Linked DNA regions of Homo sapiens: region 2 is linked to region 1. The links come from fine-mapping of genetic effects on gene expression. A gene starts in region 1. The other region holds a variant in brackets. All regions are shown on one strand. Distances are from middle to middle.

Evidence for each region. PIP is the estimated chance that this variant, and not a neighbour inherited with it, causes the effect.
Region 2: its variant is the best candidate, but not a certain one, in a credible set for the expression of CARD9 in subcutaneous fat (TwinsUK, PIP 0.83).

The regions. Positions count from the first base shown.
Region 1 is chr9:136,368,900-136,376,899 of GRCh38, reverse strand. CARD9 (caspase recruitment domain family member 9) reads left to right here and starts at 3,231. Exons shown (of 13, transcript NM_052813.5): 1 at 3,231-3,368; 2 at 4,806-5,005; 3 at 5,439-5,576; 4 at 5,755-6,059; 5 at 6,199-6,378; 6 at 6,463-6,606; 7 at 7,025-7,150. The coding sequence starts at 4,822. SNAPC4 (small nuclear RNA activating complex polypeptide 4) reads left to right here. Exons shown (of 24, transcript NM_003086.4): 23 at 419-551; 24 at 1,100-1,329. The coding sequence ends at 544. LOC124902309 (a long non-coding RNA gene) reads right to left here. Exons shown (of 2, transcript XR_007061863.1): 2 at 7,603-8,000. RefSeq lists enhancers at 2,336-3,049, 3,069-3,363.
Region 2 is chr9:136,470,983-136,479,494 of GRCh38, reverse strand. SEC16A (SEC16 homolog A, endoplasmic reticulum export factor) reads left to right here. Exons shown (of 32, transcript NM_014866.2): 2 at 665-786; 3 at 1,811-5,446; 4 at 7,384-7,520. The coding sequence starts at 1,880. Among named protein-coding and RNA genes, the nearest start is that of SEC16A, 7.8 kb to the left of the region's middle. The variant C/T (reference allele first, on the strand shown) is at 4,735.

The sequences.
Region 1 (8,000 bases):
GGAGTGTGGCAGAGGGCCTTCCATCTCTCCCCAGGGTTGTGTCTCGCAAGTCCCTGGGCTGAAGTGTGGGAGGAAGCAATGTCCAAGAGTTGGGGAGGACCCCGGCCAGCCAGGGGAAGAGGCCCTCTGTGCCCCATCCATGTACAGCCTCCTGCCCTGCCTGGGTGTGATGGCTGTCCCATGGGGGAGTGGGAGGCCCACCAGAGGGATGGCTTGGATGGGGTCAGAGCCCCCGAGGGAGGGAGTGCACAGTCACGTGTGGCCCCAGGAGTGCCTGGAGCAGCTCCCGCCTGAGCTGAGGGTGCCCTGTCCCAAGTGGGACACTCACCCACAGGGCCCCTCCTCACTCCCGTCCCTTCCCCGTCCATCATGGCTCGGGGGTGTCACTCTTGTCCCCACTGCCTGGATTTTCTTTCAGGGAGCCCCAGACTCTGGTAAATGCTCTGCTTCCTCCTGCCTGGATACTTCTAATGACCCTGACGACCTGGACGTGCTCAGAACCCGGCATGCCAGGCACACCCGGAAGCGGAGGCGGCTGGTGTGAGCAGCAGGTGAGTCCTGAGTGGGGAGGCCACTGCCCTACAACCCAGGGGACAGAGTGGTGTCCAGATGGCAGGGGGCCTTGGCCTCTGCTCGGCTCTTTGGCGCTCACAGCAGGTGTGCTGGGTTAGGTGGGCAGGTCCAGGGTCATGGAGGCCCTCCAGGGGGAGAAGCATTTAACCCACATCCTTCCTGCTGGCCACCCATGCCTCGGGCCTTGGCACCACTGTGCCCCTGACCATAGGCTCATTCCCTGCCTTTGGGGTCTGGGCTCCTCCCTGGCCGCTGTGCTCTGGTGGTGCCCTGTTCCCGTGCATTGCTGCGTCGTCTCCCAGCTTGTAAAACGATCACCATCCCCAACCGCAGCCACCAGGCTGGCTCTTCACTGCTGGAGCCCTGGTGCCCTGGCCTGGCCCTTGGCGCATGTGGGTCAGGTTTACCAAGCAGACTGGGCGTGGCCGGCGCTGGGGTGGTCTTGGTTCCTGTTTGTCTGTCCCAGCCCTGCTTGGGGTCTGGCTGGGGTCAAGGGCACCCCCCACCTGGTGTTCCTGTGTTCCAGGACAAGCACTTTCTCAGAAGCCCGTGGCCCTGCTGACGAGAGACAGCCCACCCCCAGCCTGCAAGAGAGGCAGCCAGAGGCCAGGTATCTGCTGGCCGCTGACTGACCAGGTCCGCAGTGAACAGAGGCGGGCCTGCCGACTGACTGTGTGGCATGGAGCATGGCTGTTCCCCAAGTGCACACCTGAACACTTGGAGGAATAAAGTTCTGTTTTTAATTGTGGAGCTGGACACAGGCTGTTGTGGTTTTGTTGTCCTGAGGTACCGGGCAGTGTACAGGGACCCCCCACCTGGCTGGGGTCAGGCTGCTGCCTAGTGGCTGAGCCACCCTAGTGCAGGCAGTTCGGGAACAAGCAGGGTGCTGGGGGCCCAGAGCTGGGGTCCTGGAAGGCCTCCCGTACCCCGGCTGCCCTCCTGTCAGAGAAGCAGGCTTTCTTTCGCCCATTTCCTGGAAAGCATCTGTGGCTTTGTCCTTCAGGCTAGCCGGCACCCTCCCCAGATGGCTGCCAGCCCTCGCGCTGCCCTGGCTGACCCAGGGGGTTCCCTGGAACAGATGACCTGGCTACCCCGACACGGCGGCAGCCCCCACCCTCCACTGTTCCTTTTGCATGGGCCTTTATTGGCATAAGACTAGCCCCCATCTTCTCCGTCTGTCCCCTAGCTCCCTTTCCTTTGTCTCTGTGGCAGCAGCGCCCCCAGGCCCTTGGCTATCTGGGCTTCGATCCTTCACTGGAGCCACTGTGGGGCCTCAGCCCTGGGCACCTGGCAGACGGGACGGTCCCATGGCCGACCTCACTCCTGAGTATGTGTTGCTGTGCCTGGTTCTCTAGTCTGGTGCCTAGTCTGGGGGCCACTCTGATCTGTGGGTTATTTAGCGGTATATTATTTAATTTCCAAATATTTAGAGATTTTGCCGATATCTGTTACCGATTTTTAGCTTCCGATATGGTTAGAGAACATGGTATGTGTGTTCACTCCTAAGGACACACACCACAGGGAAGTCACTAAGGTCCGCGTTTTAAACGCTGGGGAAACACTGGGTCATGAGGGCCTGGTGCCAGCTCCGGTTCGCTCCCTGGCAGGGCCCAGGATGGCCCCGGCCTGCACACTCGCTCATGTTGATGGTGAGGGGTCCAGCAGGGGCACGGCCCCCTGGAATGTGGCATTCCCGAGAGCCCAGGAGGACCCCTAACTGTCCGCTCCTTAATGTGTGATGTCAGACGTTGTCCGCACAGAGGCCTGAGGGCTGGAGGCTGAGAACGGTTAGGCAAGCTCCACACCAGCTTCCTTGCCTTCCAGCCTGGCGGCCCCTTCTCGAACCTGTTGGGTGGCAACTCAGTTCAACCAGCTTTACCGGGTGAGGCGGGGCCTGGGGGTTCCCAAGCCTGCAGGGATGAGGCTCTGGCAGCCCACACGCTGAAGTGCACAGTTCAGGGCAGACTCTGCTGTCCGTTGTCCCTGGATGGGGGCCGAGCTGTGCCCTGCTGTCACCGGCTCTTCTGAAGCTGGTTTGGGGGACCCCGAGAGTGGCCTCAGTCCTCACATGCATCCTGGTGGAGAGCAGGGATGCCTCATGATGGGGATAACGAGGATAACGACACTTCTGGAAGGGACGTTTCTCCCCCGTGTGCAGCTGGGTGGTGGCCGATGCCATGGCCCCTGGCAGGCTGCTGTGGCCTCCTGGGCTCCATAAGGTGGGCTGCAGCCCTTCTGTGACCAAGGCGTGTGCTGGCCATGCCGTGTGGCTGTGTGCCCCCCTGCACATGCCCTGCCCCGCTGTCCTGAGATGCTGGCGAGGGCGAGGGTGTTCGCACAGAGCAAAGCATGCCTTACTGAAGAAGTCTCCAGAAGCCTGTGACCAGGTCAAAGTGGCTGGGTGCGGGCTGGCCTTGTCCAGCCCCCTGGGGGTCTCTGCTGTCTCTTCTACTTGCCAGGTGCCAGGGCTGGGCCTCTGGGGCATCCCCAGGACCCCCAGCCCCCGGCCAGGCTGGGAGGGCTGGGAGCAGCTTTCCTCTGGAGGGCAGCGGACTTCCACTTCCGTCTGCCTCTTGGGGCCTCCTGGGCTGGGCGAATCAGAAAGCAGGTCACCAGGGACTGTCCCCCTGTGGGAGGACTGGCGGGACTGTGGAGTTAAGCAGAACCCATCAGGAAGTGCACAGGCGTCCGGCGTGCTCCTCCCTCCCTGCAGCCCCGGGCAGCATCTCCCAGAGGCTCCGCGGCCCAGGCTCCTGGTGTGTCTGCAGTGCAGGTGGCTCCTGGAAGACCCTCAGGTGGGTGGGTCTGGTGCTTTCTGAAAGGTGGCCAGGAAGGTTGGCGTTGGCCTAGTTCAGGATCCTGGCACTGATCCCCCAGAGCAGCCTGAGGCTTCCCACAGGCAGCCAGGCAGCCTCCGCCATGCGGCCCCGTCCCTTTCACGGCCCCTGGGCGGAGATGTGTTCATTTCAGTGGAATTACGGTGGCAGATGGGACCCTGCATTTCAAGCTGGGGAAGCAGGAAAGGGGCCCAGTGTTCCCAGGACTGTCTACCGTGTGGCCAGTGTTTTTATTCAGTCCCTTGTCTGTCAAAACTGTCCTGAATGGGGTGACAAAGTGCAGCGGGAAGTTGAGAAATGCCTCAAAAGACCAAGCCTGGGGCAACTATGTCTCCAGGAGCAGTGACCCAGCTCCTCTGGGCTGGAAACCAGCGTTTCCCAGCGGGGCTGGAGGCTGTCTGAGGACCACGTGGCTGCTCCCAGCCTTGCCGCAGTCCCAGTCTCAGAGGGAGTGGCTTTCAGCGGCTGAGGCCCCCACCATGCTGGCAGAAAGGGACAGCAGTGGCTGGTCCCAACATGGGTAGTTCTGTTGCAGCCACTGGGATGGGGGCCGGGCCTCATCTGGGGCAGGAGAAGAGTCCAGGGATTCACTGGTGCCCGGCACCTCAACCTGGAGAAAACACCGCAGCAGCACTCCTGGCCAGCCAAGGGCAACACTGACAGCCCCTCCCAGGGTTGCGGGGCCGGCAGGGGGTGACAGAGACACGCTCCTGTGGGCAGCTCTTCCCGGCCAGTGCAGCGACCCCGCAGCTGCAGCAGGGCTGGGTGGCCACTCTTGCATCATCAGCAGCCGGCCGTGGAGGAGGGAGGGCACAGCCAGGGATGTGAGCAGGCGTCGGTCAGGGGAATGAGGAAGTCCCACAAGAACCGGCTCCCCCAGCTGCTGTGCTGGTGGGAGGGCCACTGGCCAACCTGCTCTCACCCAGCTTGGGCTGGCCATAGTGCCAGGCAGTTGCCCTCAGCTCCTCTGCCCATTCCAGCCATGGAGGTGGCTAACCTTGCAGGCTCCAGGGCGTGATGGGAGTGTCCAGGAGGCAGAGGCCAGAGGGGGTCATGCTGTAGGGGGAGTTCCTCTCTCAGACCCCATCTGTGCCTCCCCCGCTGCGTATCTGGGTGACATGGATGCCAACGGGCAGGAGCAAGGGCTGGGAAAGGCTGCGGAGGGGCCCTCGGCTGGTCTGGTGGGGAGCGGGGTCACTGTGTCTCTGCTGCCTCCCTGGGGGATCCAGCGTGGGGATGGGACATGGAGCTGGGCACCTCTCCTGGATGCCCCTGGGCTGATCCCCCTCGATGCCCTGACGAGAGCCCTGGCCCAGCGTCTGAGAAGGAGTGGGAGCTGGGCCCGGGTGGGGGCAGGAGCCGGCATCGCTCTCAGCACTGCCCCACACTCCCCAGCCTGCCTGCTGAGGCCATGTCGGACTACGAGAACGATGACGAGTGCTGGAGCGTCCTGGAGGGCTTCCGGGTGACGCTCACCTCGGTCATCGACCCCTCACGCATCACACCTTACCTGCGGCAGTGCAAGGTCCTGAACCCCGATGATGAGGAGCAGGTGCTCAGCGACCCCAACCTGGTCATCCGCAAACGGAAAGTGGGTCAGTGTTGCCCCGCGGGCCCCAGGCCCCAAACCCAACCACAGAGTCAGCTCGGAGGTGGCTGCACGCTCTGCCACCCTGACCCTCAACCCCAGGAGAGCCCCGCCTGGCTTTGCCCCTGGCCTCTGACTGAGGCCCAACCTCAACCCTGGCACGTGGCCCGTCCCCCAGCCTCTCCTGCCGGCTTGGTGCTGCCAAGAGGGGCAGCGGGGCTCCCACCGCAGCGGGGGCTCCTGAGACAGCCAAGGGGCGGGTGGGCAGCACTTGGTCCCCAGCCTAGTACCAAGACCCGCAGGGTACCTCATCCAAGACCCAGACCACGGCACACCTCATCTGCATGCCAGCCTCCACCTGTCCCTGCCCCCAGGCCCACCCACCCCAGCCCTCTGCCTCGCCTGTGCCCCGCCCCCAGTTAGGCCTCTCTGGCCCGCAGGTGTGCTCCTGGACATCCTGCAGCGGACCGGCCACAAGGGCTACGTGGCCTTCCTCGAGAGCCTGGAGCTCTACTACCCGCAGCTGTACAAGAAGGTCACAGGCAAGGAGCCGGCCCGCGTCTTCTCCATGATCATCGGTGAGTGACGGGGGAGGCGGGGCCGACAGGGGAGGCGCTGGCGGGGAGCGGGCAGTGGTGTTGGGTCCTCTGCCTGGCCCCCATCCCTAGGAGCCCTGAGCTCCTGCCACAGCGCAGGGCGTGATGGAGCTGGGCCACCGGGGAACACGGCACCATCTGACACTGGCCTGGCCCACAGACGCGTCCGGGGAGTCAGGCCTGACTCAGCTGCTGATGACTGAGGTCATGAAGCTGCAGAAGAAGGTGCAGGACCTGACCGCGCTGCTGAGCTCCAAAGATGACTTCATCAAGGAGCTGCGGGTGAAGGACAGCCTGCTGCGCAAGCACCAGGAGCGTGTGCAGAGGCTCAAGGAGGAGTGCGAGGCCGGCAGCCGCGAGCTCAAGCGCTGCAAGGAGGAGAACTACGACCTGGCCATGCGCCTGGCGCACCAGAGTGAGGAGAAGGGCGCCGCGCTCATGCGGAACCGTGACCTGCAGCTGGAGGTGCGCCCGCTGCCCCCGGGAAACCAGGCCACCCTCGCCTGGCCTGGCGGGGTCTGCAGGCCGGGGCGGTCGGGGGTGGCCCCACGGGTCTGCGGTCACCGCCTGGAGGGGACAGCCAGGCTCACTGGACCTTCTGCAGATTGACCAGCTCAAGCACAGCCTCATGAAGGCCGAGGACGACTGCAAGGTGGAGCGCAAGCACACGCTGAAGCTCAGGCACGCCATGGAGCAGCGGCCCAGCCAGGAGCTGCTGTGGGAGCTGCAGCAGGAGAAGGCCCTGCTCCAGGCCCGGGTGCAGGAGCTGGAGGCCTCCGTCCAGGTGGGGCCGTAGGCAGGGCAGGTGCAGCCCAGGCAGGGCAGTGGGGGCCTTCCCAGCCAGGCCATTGCCTTTTGCCCCCTTCAGGAGGGGAAGCTGGACAGGAGCAGCCCCTACATCCAGGTACTGGAGGAGGACTGGCGGCAGGCGCTGCGGGACCACCAGGAGCAGGCCAACACCATCTTCTCCCTGCGCAAGGACCTCCGCCAGGGCGAGGCCCGACGCCTCCGGGTAGGAGGGCAGGCGGGGAGACATGGCCCCTGGGGTCCAAGCCAGGCTGGACGGGCTGAGCTCCGCCCACTCCGTGCCTGGAAGGTGGGGTGTGGAGACCCCAGTGCAGCGCCTCCACTCACCCACTCCTGGAGGCACAGTGGACGGTGCCCTCTCCTTGCCCGCCTGCCCCCCATGGCAAAGGCCAACCTCTGGGCTCATGGTGCCTGAGGCACAGCAGTGTCTGAGGCCTGCCGGAGGGCCCTGTCCTGCCGCGGTCTGGAAGTGCAGGGCTGGTAGGGGCCTGGGGACTCCTATGGCCTCCCCCGACATCCCAACTGGCCTGACCACATGCTTCTGAGCCCCTGCCCGGAGTATACCCCAAGGGCCAGAATGGGGGGCCTCAGGCCTGTGGGGGCTGAGCTGCCGCCCCCTGCAGTGCATGGAGGAGAAGGAGATGTTCGAGCTGCAGTGCCTGGCACTACGTAAGGACTCCAAGATGTACAAGGACCGCATCGAGGCCATCCTGCTGCAGATGGAGGAGGTCGCCATTGAGCGGGACCAGGTGGGCACTCGCAGGGGCAGGACAAAGCACCCCACTCGCGGGTGGGTGCACCAGGGCCACGGCCCTTGAGGGCAGTTGTCAGAGGATTTTTAATCTTTGTTATTTGTTTTTGAGATGGGGTCTTGCTATGTCACCCAGGGTGGCCTCAAACTACTGGCCTCAAGCAATCCTCCGGCCTCAGCCTCCCAAAGTGCTGGGATTGCAAGCTGAGCTGCCACACCTGGTCTGTTTTTTAAATGACAGAAGCAATACTTAACACTAAAAAAAAGTAAACGATGATGAAGTCAATACTTCCCCACCCCAGCCTACTGTCAGGGAAAACCGTGTTCAACCTTCCCGCTCCACCTTACAGACTTACCTGTCATCTATCCATGTATCCATCTGTCTATCATCTATCACCTATCTATCTATTTATATATTTGGTTTTGTTTTACAAAAATGGAAACATTCTGTCTTGTTTTACCAGTAGCTTTTTTTAATCTTAAAAAAAGCTTGGCTGGACGTGGTGTCTCTCGCCTGTCATCCCAGCACTTTGGGAGGCTGAGGCGGGCGGATCACTTGAGCCCAGGAGTTCCAGAGCAGCCTGGGCAACACGGTGAGATCCCTGCTCTACAAAAAAATGCAAAAATTGGCCTGGCGCGGTGGCTCACGCCTATAATCCCAGCACTCTAGGAGGGCGAGGCAGGCGGCTCACTTGAGGTCAGGAGTTCGAGACCAGCCTGGCCAGTATGGGGAAACCCCGTCTCTACTAAAAACACAAAAATTAGCCTGGTGTGGTTCCGGGCGCCTGTAATCCCAGCTACTCAGGAGGCTGAGGCAGGAGAATTGCTTGAACCCAGGAGGCAGAGGT
Region 2 (8,512 bases), 100 kb before region 1:
TGTAGTCCCAGCTGCTCAGGAGGCTGAGGCAGGAGAATGGCATGAACCTGGGAGGCGGAGCTTGCAGTGAGCCGAGATCGCACCACTGCACCCCAGTCTGGGCGACAGAGCAAGACTCCGTCTCAAAAAAAAAAATGTGTGGATTAAACTACAGAGTCCTCCCCTTTGGTTTAATTTTTCCTTTGATTGGCTAAACTTATCTGTTTGTTCATGAGGGTGGTGCTGACAAGAAGAAAGACTGATAGAAAGAAAAGAACTTTCCTAAAGATATAGTCCTTGAATTTTTGCCTTAAGAGGCCAGGTTAACTATTCAAGTTTGTATCTACTATGTTTTATTTAAAAACTGATGGAGGTTTTTGCCCCTTTCTTTTCTGTAAGAGGTTTCTTGGCAATTCTGCCTGTTGTTGAAAGTGTTGGAATCCAGTCTGTGCCTTGTAAAGCTGCTTTAAGTTTCCTGGGAGTTTCCATTCCAGGCACAGTTACGGCTCCAGTTCAAAGGTAACATCTTGCTGGTGGTCCTTTCAGACCTTAAGCCAGTCACAGTACAAAAACGGAGACCTATGAAGAGGTGTGATAAAAGGCATTTAGATGAATATATTTATTTTGCAGTGCTTTTTAAAAAAATGATTGTGTCACTTTTTATTTATTTATTTTTTTAAAATAGAGACCGTCTTGCTCTGTTGCCCAGGCTGGACCGCGGTGGTATAATCATAGCTCACTGCAGCCTCGAACTCATGGACACAAGTGATCTTCCTTCCTTAACCCCCTGAGTCCCTGGGACTACAGGTGTGTGCCACCATGTCTGGCTAACTTTCTTCTTTTGTAGAGACAAGGTCTTGCTATGTTGCCCAGGCTGGTCTCGACCTCCTGGGCTCTGGCAGTCCTTCCACCTTGACCTCCCAAAGTGCTGGGATTACAGGCATGAGCCACTGCACCCAGCCTATTTTGCAGCTTTTATAACTATACTTCATAATGCTCTTTCATCAAAGAAAATGGAAGAATGAATTTTAAACTTTTGTATCCCTTTTGAAATTTAAAATTAACATGTATGGAAAGTATGATATAAAGTTTTCCTTTTTTTTTTTTTTTTTTGAGCTAGGGACTCACTGTGTCACCCAGGCTGAAGGGTAGTGGTGCTGTCATAGCTCACGACAGCCTCAACCTCCCAGGCTGACGCAATCCTCCTGCCTCAGCCTCCTGAGTAGTTGGGACTACAGGTGTGCACCACCATGCCTGGCTGATTTTTGTATTTTTTGTAGAAACGAGATCCCCCTGTTGCTCAGGCTGGCCTCGAATTCCTGGGCTCAAGTGGTCCTCCCGCCTTGGCCTCTTAAAGTGTTGGGAGTACAGGCGTAAGCCACCATATCTGGCCAGTTTTTCTTTCTTAATAGAAGAGTTGGCTCTTCCTGGATCTAGGGATGGTTTACAGGAAAACATTGAGTATCTGTGGGTCTGGTAGCATATCACAGCAGTGGTCAGGTTCCGCACTGTCCCTGTTGTTGTGGCGCGGGTCTGCGGCAGCAATGGGCCCTGTGAGTAGAGGATCCCAGGGGAGGGAGTGGCCATCTAGACATACTCCATCAGCTCGCAGCCAGGCCATCCAGGGTTCTCACTCTGTCCCCTGCCCCCCAGAACAGTTCCTCAGGGACAGGTGTTCTCTGCTGGGGTGGGGTGTAGGGGAGAGAGAGTCCTTGGGATTTAAGTGACATAAAATCATGTTCAATGTTTCTCTTTTTCCTTAGTTTTCCTGATTGCAGCTAGGACTTTGAATATATGGATTTTATGCTGATTTTCTCTTTTTCTTTTCCAGCTCCAATTAAGGAACAGCTATATCCTGCTTCCTTCTGTAAGCAGCATCGACTTGTGCAAGGGTTCAGTCATGCAGCCACCGCCCCAGACGGTCCCGTCTGGCATGGCTGGGCCACCTCCAGCCGGGAATCCTCGGAGCGTGTTCTGGGCTAGCAGCCCTTACAGGAGACGGGCTAATAATAATGCAGCAGTGGCTCCGACAACTTGCCCGTTGCAGCCGGTCACGGATCCATTTGCTTTTAGTAGACAGGCGCTCCAAAGTACACCACTGGGCAGTTCGTCCAAAAGCAGTCCACCTGTCTTGCAAGGCCCAGCCCCCGCAGGGTTTTCTCAGCACCCCGGTTTGCTTGTTCCTCACACACATGCCAGAGATAGCTCTCAGGGACCCTGTGAGCCCCTGCCTGGACCTCTGACACAGCCCAGAGCACATGCCAGTCCGTTTTCTGGTGCATTGACACCTTCAGCACCTCCTGGGCCTGAGATGAACAGGAGTGCAGAGGTCGGTCCCAGTTCAGAGCCTGAAGTTCAGACTCTGCCATATCTTCCTCACTACATTCCAGGAGTGGATCCTGAAACGTCTCATGGGGGCCACCCTCATGGGAACATGCCTGGGCTCGACCGACCCCTGAGCAGGCAAAACCCACATGACGGTGTGGTCACCCCAGCAGCATCCCCTTCCCTCCCTCAGCCTGGTCTGCAGATGCCAGGACAGTGGGGGCCAGTGCAGGGAGGCCCACAGCCCTCGGGGCAACATCGTTCACCCTGCCCTGAAGGACCTGTTCCCAGCGGGGTGCCCTGTGCCACCAGCGTTCCTCATTTCCCCACCCCGTCCATCCTACATCAGGGCCCTGGTCATGAGCAACACAGCCCTCTGGTGGCTCCCCCAGCAGCCTTGCCCAGTGACGGAAGAGACGAGGTGAGCCACTTGCAAAGTGGAAGCCACCTGGCCAATAACTCTGATCCTGAAAGTACATTCAGGCAAAATCCCAGAATTGTGAATCACTGGGCAAGCCCAGAGCTCAGGCAGAATCCAGGAGTGAAGAATGAGCACCGGCCCGCCTCTGCTCTTGTGAACCCCCTCGCCCGGGGAGATAGCCCAGAAAACCGTACGCACCACCCACTGGGGGCTGGGGCCGGGTCTGGCTGTGCCCCGCTAGAAGCAGACTCAGGAGCTTCAGGAGCTCTGGCGATGTTTTTCCAAGGGGGAGAGACAGAAAATGAGGAGAATCTCTCATCTGAAAAAGCAGGCTTATCTGGTCAAGCGGACTTTGACGATTTCTGCTCCAGCCCTGGGCTAGGCCGTCCGCCCGCACCTACACACGTGGGGGCAGGCAGCCTCTGCCAGGCCCTTCTCCCAGGCCCCAGCAATGAGGCTGCTGGTGATGTGTGGGGTGACACAGCGAGCACAGGGGTGCCGGATGCCAGCGGCTCGCAGTATGAGAATGTTGAGAACTTAGAATTTGTTCAGAATCAAGAAGTTCTGCCAAGTGAGCCCCTCAATTTGGACCCTTCCTCCCCGAGTGACCAGTTCAGATATGGGCCCCTTCCTGGGCCAGCTGTGCCCAGGCATGGTGCTGTGTGCCACACCGGAGCCCCTGATGCCACACTGCATACAGTGCACCCTGACAGCGTGTCATCCAGCTATAGCAGCAGAAGCCACGGAAGGCTCTCAGGCTCAGCCAGGCCCCAGGAGCTGGTTGGCACATTCATTCAGCAAGAAGTTGGAAAACCCGAGGATGAAGCTTCAGGTAGTTTTTTTAAGCAAATCGATTCTTCTCCCGTAGGAGGTGAAACAGACGAGACCACTGTGAGCCAGAATTACCGTGGCAGCGTGTCCCAGCCCTCAACCCCGAGCCCCCCGAAACCTACAGGAATATTTCAGACAAGTGCAAATAGTTCTTTCGAACCGGTAAAATCTCACTTAGTTGGGGTAAAACCATTTGAGGCAGATCGCGCCAACGTGGTTGGTGAAGTAAGGGAGACCTGTGTCCGCCAGAAGCAGTGCAGACCAGCTGCCGCCCTGCCCGATGCTTCCCCTGGCAACCTGGAGCAGCCACCAGACAACATGGAGACCCTCTGTGCACCCCAGGTCTGTCCCCTGCCTCTTAACTCCACCACGGAAGCTGTGCACATGCTTCCGCACGCAGGGGCACCGCCCTTGGATACTGTGTATCCAGCACCCGAGAAGAGGCCTTCAGCCAGGACCCAGGGGCCCGTGAAGTGTGAGAGCCCAGCAACGACTCTGTGGGCGCAAAGTGAGCTGCCAGATTTTGGAGGCAACGTCCTTCTGGCCCCTGCAGCCCCGGCGCTTTATGTGTGTGCAAAACCTCAGCCACCTGTTGTTCAGCCTCCAGAAGAGGCGATGTCCGGGCAGCAGTCACGGAACCCAAGCTCGGCGGCCCCGGTGCAGAGCCGAGGTGGCATTGGTGCTTCTGAGAACCTTGAGAATCCTCCCAAAATGGGAGAGGAGGAGGCCCTTCAGTCCCAGGCGAGTTCTGGTTATGCAAGTTTATTATCCTCACCGCCCACTGAGTCTCTGCAGAATCCTCCAGTCTTGATTGCTCAGCCTGATCACAGCTATAATCTGGCTCAGCCCATTAACTTTTCTGTGTCCTTATCGAACTCTCATGAGAAGAATCAGTCCTGGAGAGAGGCTTTGGTGGGGGATAGACCTGCAGTCAGCAGTTGGGCTCTCGGTGGTGATTCTGGGGAGAACACTTCTTTGTCTGGGATTCCAACCAGCTCTGTCCTTAGCTTGTCTCTGCCTAGCAGTGTTGCCCAAAGTAATTTTCCACAAGGTTCTGGTGCTTCCGAAATGGTTTCTAATCAGCCTGCTAATTTGCTGGTTCAACCACCATCCCAGCCAGTTCCAGAGAACTTGGTTCCAGAAAGTCAAAAGGATCGTAAGGCAGGAAGTGCTCTTCC[C/T]GGATTTGCTAATAGCCCTGCTGGAAGCACAAGTGTGGTGTTAGTTCCACCTGCACACGGCACCCTGGTGCCTGATGGTAATAAGGCAAACCATTCCAGTCATCAGGAAGACACTTACGGAGCCCTAGACTTTACCTTAAGCAGGACTTTGGAAAATCCTGTAAACGTGTACAACCCGTCCCATTCTGACAGCCTCGCTTCTCAGCAAAGTGTTGCCAGTCATCCCAGACAATCTGGGCCTGGGGCGCCTAACCTTGACCGTTTTTATCAGCAGGTCACGAAAGATGCCCAGGGCCAGCCTGGCCTCGAAAGAGCCCAGCAGGAGCTGGTGCCACCCCAGCAACAGGCTTCTCCCCCACAACTACCCAAAGCCATGTTTTCGGAGCTGTCAAATCCAGAAAGTCTGCCCGCACAGGGACAGGCCCAGAACTCAGCACAGTCACCAGCAAGTCTGGTTCTGGTCGACGCGGGTCAGCAGCTGCCCCCTCGGCCTCCTCAGTCCTCTAGCGTGTCTCTGGTGTCCAGTGGCTCCGGCCAGGCAGCTGTGCCGTCAGAGCAGCCGTGGCCACAGCCAGTGCCTGCACTTGCCCCCGGCCCACCGCCTCAGGACCTGGCCGCCTACTACTACTACCGGCCTTTGTACGATGCCTACCAGCCTCAGTACTCTTTGCCGTACCCACCGGAGCCTGGCGCAGCCTCCCTCTATTACCAGGTAAGAGTCGAGTCGTATGTGTAACCCACTTTTCTGTCTGTGCTTTGACCAGTTGAGTCTCACTCACAGTGTATTCCTTAGTAGTGTTTGTTCGCTTGGTTCCGGGGTCACCCACAGTCCCGCAGGCGTGAGAACAGTATTCCAGTAACGCTTCCTGAGGACAGGGCTCCCGGCTCCAGAACCTACTCTCCCAAGCACAGGCCACCCTTAGTTCACACCACGCGTTAGCATCTTGAATTGCTTATAATACTTGCTTAGGATTTGAACCAGCCTCCCCAGCTTATGTGACAAAAAGAGCCCTCCATTTGCTGTCACCCCTGCTCCTGCTGGCTGTCTGCAGAAAAGTTCTGTCTTGCATGCCTTGGGAAGCTGGGCTAGCCTCTGGAAGCTTACGTCAGAAGCATTGGGTATAACCATAGTCCTTTAAATGCCCCTGGAGAATAAAAACATGGAGAGAAAATAGTTTTGGAGCATGAGCCACACGCATCAGCTAAGCGAGGCGGAGTCCCGCAAGCTGCTGTCAGCACGTGGTGGTGCGGGCAGCGGCTCGGGGACCGGCTGTGCTCGTGCAGAAGATTCTTCTGTGCCTCTTTTTCACAGGGACACCAGCTCATGAGTGACATTTGAGTTAGGTTCCGCATAATCCTGCAGTCGTTCGAAAAGTGTCTGTGTACACATTTGATCATTATCTGCTTTTCCTACCCTCTAACCCAGTTCAACATACACCGATTGGGTTCACCGATTCAGTGTCACCCCAGGTAGAAGGATTGTGTGATAGGGAATTGGAAAACCATGGTCTTGCGGTATGTAAGGCCAGTTGGAACCAGACTTGGGGCCACACAGGAAGGCCTTGCAGTCAGAAGGGGGCCCGCCCCGAGGAGCAAGGCTGCCGTGGCTTGCTGGGTACTGCCCCGGGGAATGGGGCTGGGCCTCCCCCATGGGCCTCGAGCATCATGGTTTGTGTGCGTGTGACCAGGTGCACACCTGACCCCTCAGACCTGTGTAGGTTCCAGAAGGAGCCCAGGCACTTTTTATTTCCATACAAGGACATTCAGCTCTGCTGGGAGCCCTGGGGTGGGGCTGGTGCAGAGCGACGGGAAGCCGTGGCCTCACTTCGGGTCCTTTGTCCGGTCCTCCTGCTGCGAGCCACCTCCCTCCGCAGGAGTGCACTCCTCCCGCCGTGCCTCTTGCTGTGGTGTCCGGGTGGCCAAGGATGAGTCTGTTTTGCTGTGATTTCACATTTCCTGCCAGGCAGCGGCAGCGTCGAGGCCTTGAGGCTTTGAGGCGCTTAAGCGTGAATTCTGGCGTGTGTCCGGGGCACTGCATGTCTTCAGATCCTCATGTGTCCACATGGGCCCCGTTGGGAACAATTCTGTGGCCACGAATTGGTTGGTGATGGGGCTGAAGCCTCCCGAGAATAAAGCACGGTCCGCTTTTAGAGGCTGCTCCTGGCTGGGGCTCTGTTCACTGGGACCCTGGTTCTCTGACTTAACTGAGGTGGCATCTGAAGCGGGACGCAGGGGTTGTTCAAATCATGGCATCTCCACACTGGACTTATCAGGAAGCAGAAACCTAACAGCCCCTTCCAGAAGTCGCCACAGCCCCCTGGGGTTGTCTGCTGACATGCTGGTGCCCTGGGTCCATCCAGAGGTCTCCTGAACAGGGCCAGGGCTGTGGGTCTTAGGACACCCTGCTGCCTGTGGGTGTGGCTGTGCTTTGGAGGTCTGTGTGGTTGTGTATGAGGGAAGGGCCACGCTCAGTCCTGCTGGAGAGCAGCCATCTGCGATGTTTCTAGCTCAGGCTGGTTGTTGGACGAGCTTGCTCTTGGTAGGTATCTAATGCTGCCCGCCCTCTGCAATGTTTCCAGCTCAGGCTGGCTGTTGGACGAGCTTGCTCTTGATTGGTGTCTAATCCTGCCCAAATGCTTCCTCCCACAGGATGTCTACAGCCTCTATGAGCCTCGATACAGGCCCTATGATGGTGCTGCGTCTGCTTACGCCCAGAACTACCGCTATCCCGAGCCCGAGCGGCCCAGCTCCCGAGCCAGCCACTCCTCGGAACGGCCACCTCCCAGGTGCGGCCGCGCCCACCCTGGCTGCCTCTCTGTCCTACTCAGACCCATGTCTGTGTTGCTTGCTATGGGGATAACTTAGTGACTCAAAAAGTTCTGTATTTCTGAAGAATTGTACAAACTTATCTAACATATGTTGACATTTTCTTGGTATGGACAAATTGTAGGGTGTGTTTTTAAATGAAATTAAACACTGCCCCAGGTGGTCATTAGCTGTGCTGGTCAGTTAGCATTTGGCGCCACCCCTACTGGGGCCAGACCCTGCTCAGGGCTGCAGAGAAGCAGCCTCTGACTTGTCTGTGAGCCCCTCTTGACGGGGCACGTCTGTTGGTCCGGCCATTTGCTAATGGGGTGTTCAGGCTCCCCAGAGACACGGCAGCTTTTCACCGGTCTCCGGAGGCCTGGGAGGACTGGTCACAGAGGTGACTTAATTCTTAGACCTGTCAGGCTGGCTACAGAAAGCAGGGCTTGAAAGCCTGTGTTTCCTCTTCTTTTTTTTTCTTTTAAGGCAGGTCTCACTCTGTTGTCCAAGCTGGAGTGCAATGGTGCCATCTTGGCTCACTGCAGCCTTGACCTCCTGAGCCCAAGCAATCTTCCCACTTCAACCTCCCGAGGAGCTGGGACTACAGACATGCCCCATCAAACCCAGCTAATTTTGTTCATTTTTTTTTTTGTAGAGACGAGGGTCTCACTATGTTGGCCAGGCTGGTCTCGAACTCCTGGCCTCAAGGGATCCTCCTGCCCTGGTCTCCCAAAGTGCTAGGATTACAGGCATTAGCCACTGCGCCCGGCCAGCCTATGTTTCTCCTTGACATTGCCGCCTCTGCTTGAAGGCCAGCCATTCCTCTGTTTGCCATTACAGAAGAGGGGTTTGGAAAGACCTGTGGCACTGTGGCTTCAGCTGAGTAGCCCTTTAAGCCAGGTCAGAGTCCTCCTGGGCCCTAGAGCAGAGGAGGCTGTTGTTGATTTTCATCTCCACTCAGGGAGGTGCGCAG